Regions from separate parts of the Homo sapiens genome. Here region 2 is linked to region 1. Evidence: fine-mapped expression QTL. A gene starts in region 1. The other region holds a variant in brackets. All regions are shown on one strand. Distances are between the middles of the regions. Region 1 holds the start of TMEM19 (transmembrane protein 19). Region 2 overlaps LOC107984530 (a long non-coding RNA gene).

Region 1 (2,923 bases):
ATATTCATCTAAAGGGTCAGTTCACTGACACTACTATTTAATATGCATTTTTTAGCCAGATCTAATAGTCATGAGAAAATCATCCCTGACATCCAGGGACTGACCTGACACAGCTACACCACAGTGTTGGGAGATAGCTTGACATTCACAACTAGGCTATGATTTTCCTATCGAACACCAACTAATCAGAGAGGGTCACTCTGTGACTGTGGTGAAGCAAGGCAAAAAAAAGAAAAAAAAAAAAAAGACCAGTTTATAATTTTGTCTAAGCAGAGACAAAAACAATGCGACTGTGCAAACCACAAAACATTAGCTTTCATTATTAATAATTTTACCCAGTAGTCTGGTAACATTGATACTGGCCAGTCAGCTTGGTGAAATAATCCAAACATTTACCTATGCAGAACAGACTAAGACAAAAATAAAGTAGGCACATAATACATTTCAGCATAAAGACCATATATGTATATTATCTAGTACAGGAAGCCCACTACTATTTAGTCCTACTTCACAGATTTGATTCTTAGTTAACTACTTAATTAGATGTCTTACCAAAGAAAATGACAAGCTGTCTTGGCATGTATTTTGAAATTTAAAATAATGTGAGCTTTTTTAAAGTAACTACTCTTGGGGCTTAAAACACAATTGCATACTGTGTCTGAAATGGATTTGGCTCCTCTTCTTACACTGTCAGCAATTAACTGAAAAAATTGATAAATATTATGTAATTATCAGTTAATTACTGTTAACCCAGGCAAACAAGTTAATTTCACATAAAACATGAAATCAGGCCGGGCGCTGTAGCTCACGCCATTAAACCCAGCACTTTGGGAGGCCGAGGTGGGTGGATCCCCTGAGGTCAAGAGTTCGAGACCAGCCGGGCCAACATGGCAAAACCCCGTCTCTACTAAAAATATAAAAATTAGCCGGGCGTGGTTGTGGCGCCTGTAATCCCAGCTACTCCGGAGGCTGGAGCAGGAGAATCGCTTAGAACCTGGGAGGCGGTGGTTGCAGTGAGCAGAGATCGTGCCACTGCACTCCAGCCTGGGCGGCAGAGAGAGACACTGTCTCGAAAAAAAAAAAAAGAAAAGAAAAGAAATCAGCCACGATTCAGATTTTTAATGCTAACAAGACGTTTTGCTTTCTAAATGCACACACCTTTAATATAAGGGGTGTGAGGACAGATATTTCCACAATCTAAGTGGTGTTATGACAATAATTACGAGAGCTCAGTAATAGAAACTATGTTTAACTTTACCTCGCTAGCAGCCAGGAGTCTAGCACATTATAGGTACTAAACAATGTTGTTTAGTACCTATAATGTGGTTTTGGAGAAGCAGTGCAAACGCAGCCGGCCAGGATGCCAGCAGTGCCTGCCCACGTGAGCTAGGCGACATCCCCCTAAGCGGCTGCGGCGCATGCCCACAGCGGGCGAGGCGCTAGAGGCGGGGGCGCCGGGAGGCGCGGGCTTTGCTCCTGGGGTCTCGGCCTTGGCCGGCTGGACCTGACCCTAGGGCGGCTTGCGCAGCTGTCGGGACGTGACTGCGTTCAGCCGCGTCGGGCGTGCTTCCCAGACTTGCCCAAGTTCGGGTGCCCTAGCTGCCCCTTTGCAGCCGCTGGCCTACCCGGCCCGCGGGTGAGAAGGTTGCGACGGGAGGTGGGTGGAACTCGCCAGCGCCGGGACCGCGGATTGGCTGCCTCGGCTTTCTCTTTTCCCCGTGGGCTCCGGCGTGAGGCGCTGAAGCGGCCGGCAGCCGGCGACCGGCCCTCACCGTCCGCCGGGTTGCGCTCTGCTTTTGCGGTGAGGCGTTGACCACGCCCATATGAATTGGAGCTCTCCGCCAGTAGGAGTTTCCGGAAGGAGTTTGAATTTTTGTGATTTTTATGCTTGTTTGGTCGGTGGAATATGTTGGGATTTATGTTTGCCTCTGAACAAGTGTCTTGCTCACATCGTAAATGACTTTCTCTCCGAAACGCTAAATATTCTTTCCCGCAGGAGCTCATATCCTTATTTTCCATGACAGATCTTAACGACAATATATGCAAAAGATATATAAAGATGATAACTAATATAGTTATACTGAGCCTGATCATTTGCATTTCGTTAGCTTTCTGGATTATATCAATGACTGCAAGCACCTATTATGGTAAGTCTGAGTGTTCTAAGTTGTTTCTCTGTAATCTAGTCAGAGGAAATTAAAACCATACCATTGTGAAATCCAAAACTCATATCCTCTGAATGGTTATGAATGGTTGTGTTTACTTAACTTCCATAGCCTGATTTAACTTACTAACATGATAGTATAAACAATGCCTTTAATAAATGCTTGTTGTGATAATTCGAGTTATACCTATTTCTTTTTTTTTTTAATTTTTATTTTGTATAAGATAGGGGTCCCTCTGTGTTGCTAGGCTGGTCTCAAACCCCTAGGCTCAAGTGATCCTCCCACCTGTGTCTCCCAAAGTGCTGGCAATACAGGCCACCACTTCTGGACTAGTTACACCTATTTCAAAATGTCTTTATATTTTATGTAACTATTCCATCTGTCTTGGTAAAAGATAAGTGAGGCGAATATAGCTTTGTAAAGCAATTACAGTGATGCTTTTAATTTTGAATAAGAATATTAGTAATGGGCCAGGCGCGGTGGCTCACGCCTGTTATCCCAGCACTTTGGGAGGCCGAGGCGGGCAAATAACCTGAGGTCGGGAGTTCAAGACCAGCCTGGCCAACACGGTGAAACCCCAGCTCTACTAAAACTAGAAAAAAGCTGTAATCCCAGCTACTTGGGAGATGGAGGCAGGAGAATCACTTGAACCCTGGAGGCGGAGGTTGCAGTGAACCAAGATTGAGCCACTGCACTCCAGCCTGGGCCACAGAGCGAGAATCCGTCTCAAAAAAAAAAAAGTAGTAATGTAGTTTATC
Region 2 (2,923 bases), 33 kb after region 1:
CACCACCATGCCCAGCTAATTTTTGTATTTTTAGCAGAGACAGGGTTTCACCATGTTGGTCAGGCTGGTCTTGAACTCCTGACCTCAGGTGATCCACCCACCTCGGCCTCTGAAAGTGCTGGGATTACAGGCGTAAGACCACGTCTGGCACATAAATTGGGGTTATTAATAGTACTTCATGAAGTAGTTGGGAGGATCAAGGCAGTTAAGTCACCTGAGGTACCTAGTACAGTTTCTAGTAGACAGTAAGTAGCCAATATGTTTTACCATTACTATACTATTCAACATGACTAAAGTGTCATACAACTGCAGGGTACTTCTGTTCCTTTTACATTTATTGTTGTTACTATTCTGTGAAAAAAGATGAGTCCCAATCTGATATGCATAAAGTGTTTGTGTAATTCATTTCGCAAAAAGTAAGAAGGATAATTTTTTTACACCAAGCTATATTAATCAAACCTCATTCTTAAACTTTTGGGGTCATTTTTCTCCTAATAAGATAAGGCATACTAATAGGCACAAGGCTCACTATGCTTCTTTAGCCTTTTCAATATTTATTCTCCTAACGTGCCTCATGTATTCAGGCCATCTAGACTATTACCGGTTCCAGGATATACTCTGTGCTTTCTAATATCACCACATTGTTCTGCACATTCTTTTTAGAGGGCTCTTGGTTTTGTACTGGCAGAAAGTTCACTGGCGTCTGTGAGAATGTATATGTACTTCTGCATTTAGAATTAGATCCTGGAGTGATTCAGGAATGGTAAACTAACCTGTGTGCCAGTTTACAAATTCCTTTCCTCTCATTTAATTTTCACCTCCACCCCGACCTCCAAATGCCCCTAGAGCCCTTAAGGGAAGAAACAGGAGGTATTACAAAAAAGTAGGAGATCCTCTCTGAATGTCTAGATCACTGTGTTGCCTGCTCAGCTTCCCTCTGGTAGAAAGGGGGAAAAGTCAACTGACTTGAGAGGACACATGGTCTCTGAGCCATCTTTGTGCCATGATTGCTGTCCCATTTTTCCCTAAGAGCTGAATGGATTTCACCAGTTTTTACGTAAGTAATATGACATTTTGGAGAGTTGGGCTGTCGGAGGATTTTTTCACTACCCACCTATCAGAAGTGGGTTAAGAAGCCACTTTTGGCTTCTCAATTATAATTAAGATTGTTAAGGTGACTTGACCCTGTTGGTGTGTAATTAATAATGCAGCCTTCACAAGATATAAATGCTCTTTTAATTAGCATGGTAAAACAAAAGGGAAGATACACTCTTACACAAAGGAATAAGAAGCTTATTACACAAAACAGTTTGGGTTTTGTTTTGGGTTTTTTTTTGCTTTTCATTTGGAATGTTTAAACATATACAAACAGATTAATATAATATACCAACTTCAACCATTATGGGCATGCTGCCATTCTTGTTTATCTAGACCACCACTCATTCCCAGTCCCAGCTAGATTTTTTTTATGGTCCTATTTTTCTGAGGTGAATGTTTCCACATTGAAATACACACATATTTTTAACTGTGCAACTTTGACAAATGATATGCCTATGTGAAGCACTCCCCTGTCAAGATATAGAACATTTCCATCATCCCAGAAATTCCCTTGTGTCATTTCCT[A/G]TCAATCCCTCCTCTTTTCAGAGGCAAGACCATAGTTTTGCCTGTTCTAGAACAACATACAAATGGAATTATGTAGGATGTACTCTGTTGTGTCTGGCTTTTATCACTATAATATCAGAGCTTTCTGTGCATGGTGGCATGTATAAGTAATTCATGGCTTCCCATTGCTGAAATGTATTCTATTGTATGATGTCATCCACAACCTCCAGGATGGCTCCTTTTTAGTCCTCTCCCATATTGAATGGGGGACTAAATATTGGTCTGTGTTACCAATAGGACATAGATGAAATGACGGTGTGTGACCTCTGAGGCTAGGCCATAAAAGACATTGCCGCTTCCACCTGCTTTCCCTGGGATCACTCATATTGGGGAAGGCCAGTCACCGTGTCATGGGGGCACTAAAGCAATCAGCAGAGAGGCCCATATGGGGAGAAACTGAGGTCTCTTGCCAACAACCAGCACTGTGTAAAATAGATCTCCAGTCATTGTCAAGCTTCCAGCCTGGCCAAAATGTTAACTGCATCCTCATGAGGGACTTCAAGCCAGAAACACCCAACAAAGCTGCTCCTGAATTCATGACCTACAGAAACTATGTTCATGAGAGATATGGGTCTGCAGTTTTTCTTTCTTATAATTAGGCATTAGGGAAATGCTGACCTTATAAAGTAGTGAGTTAGAAAGTGTTCCCTCTGTTTCTGTTTTCTGTAACAGTTTGTAAAGAACTGGTATCTTGTTCCTTAAATCTTTGGTAGACTTCACCAATGAAACCATCTAAGCCTGGTAATTTCTGTTTGGAAGGTTATTAATTGTTGATTCAATTTTTAAAATAGAAAGCCCTGTTCCGATTATCTCTTTTTCCTTGTGTGAGTTTTAGTAGATTGTGTCTATGCAATAATGGTCAATGGCCAGGTCAAGGGTGGAACAGGACACAACCAGCAGAAAAGCCCTGAGGCAGGAAAGAGCTTGGCATGTTAAAGTAAGGGAAAAGTGGCTCTTTTATCTGGACCCTAGTGAGCCATAGTGAGAGTGAGACAAGGAGGTGGGAGCATCAGGCAGAAAGAGACTAGACCGATGAGCTTTGCCTTGTCAGAATTTAGGACTCTATCTTACGGCAATGGGAAATCACTGACAGCTTTTACAAATCTCCTTGAATCTGAGATGTAGCCACATTCTGAAGTCCTCATTCTCTTTAAGATCTTCATTCTGCAAAGCCAAAAAATCTGTCTGGGGAAATTCAGCAATGACTAATACGCGAGTAGATCAACAGGCAAACACTGATTTTTTTTTTTTTTTTTTGGCA

The links.
Region 2: its variant is fine-mapped to the expression of TMEM19 in blood mononuclear cells (TOPMed, PIP above 0.99). The same link has a PIP of 0.9 or more in T cells.

Annotation. Positions count from the first base shown.
Region 1 is chr12:71,684,664-71,687,586 of GRCh38, forward strand. It overlaps TMEM19 (transmembrane protein 19), which reads left to right and starts at 1,419. Exons shown (of 6, transcript NM_018279.4): 1 at 1,419-2,147. The coding sequence starts at 2,018. It overlaps LOC124902965 (a long non-coding RNA gene), which reads right to left and starts at 1,401. Exons shown (of 2, transcript XR_007063367.1): 1 at 1,259-1,401. RefSeq lists silencers at 1,691-1,760, 1,751-1,966.
Region 2 is chr12:71,717,197-71,720,119 of GRCh38, forward strand. The region is part of intron 1 of LOC107984530 (a long non-coding RNA gene); the gene reads left to right. Among named protein-coding and RNA genes, the nearest start is that of TMEM19, 33 kb to the left of the region's middle. The variant A/G (reference allele first, on the strand shown) is at 1,624.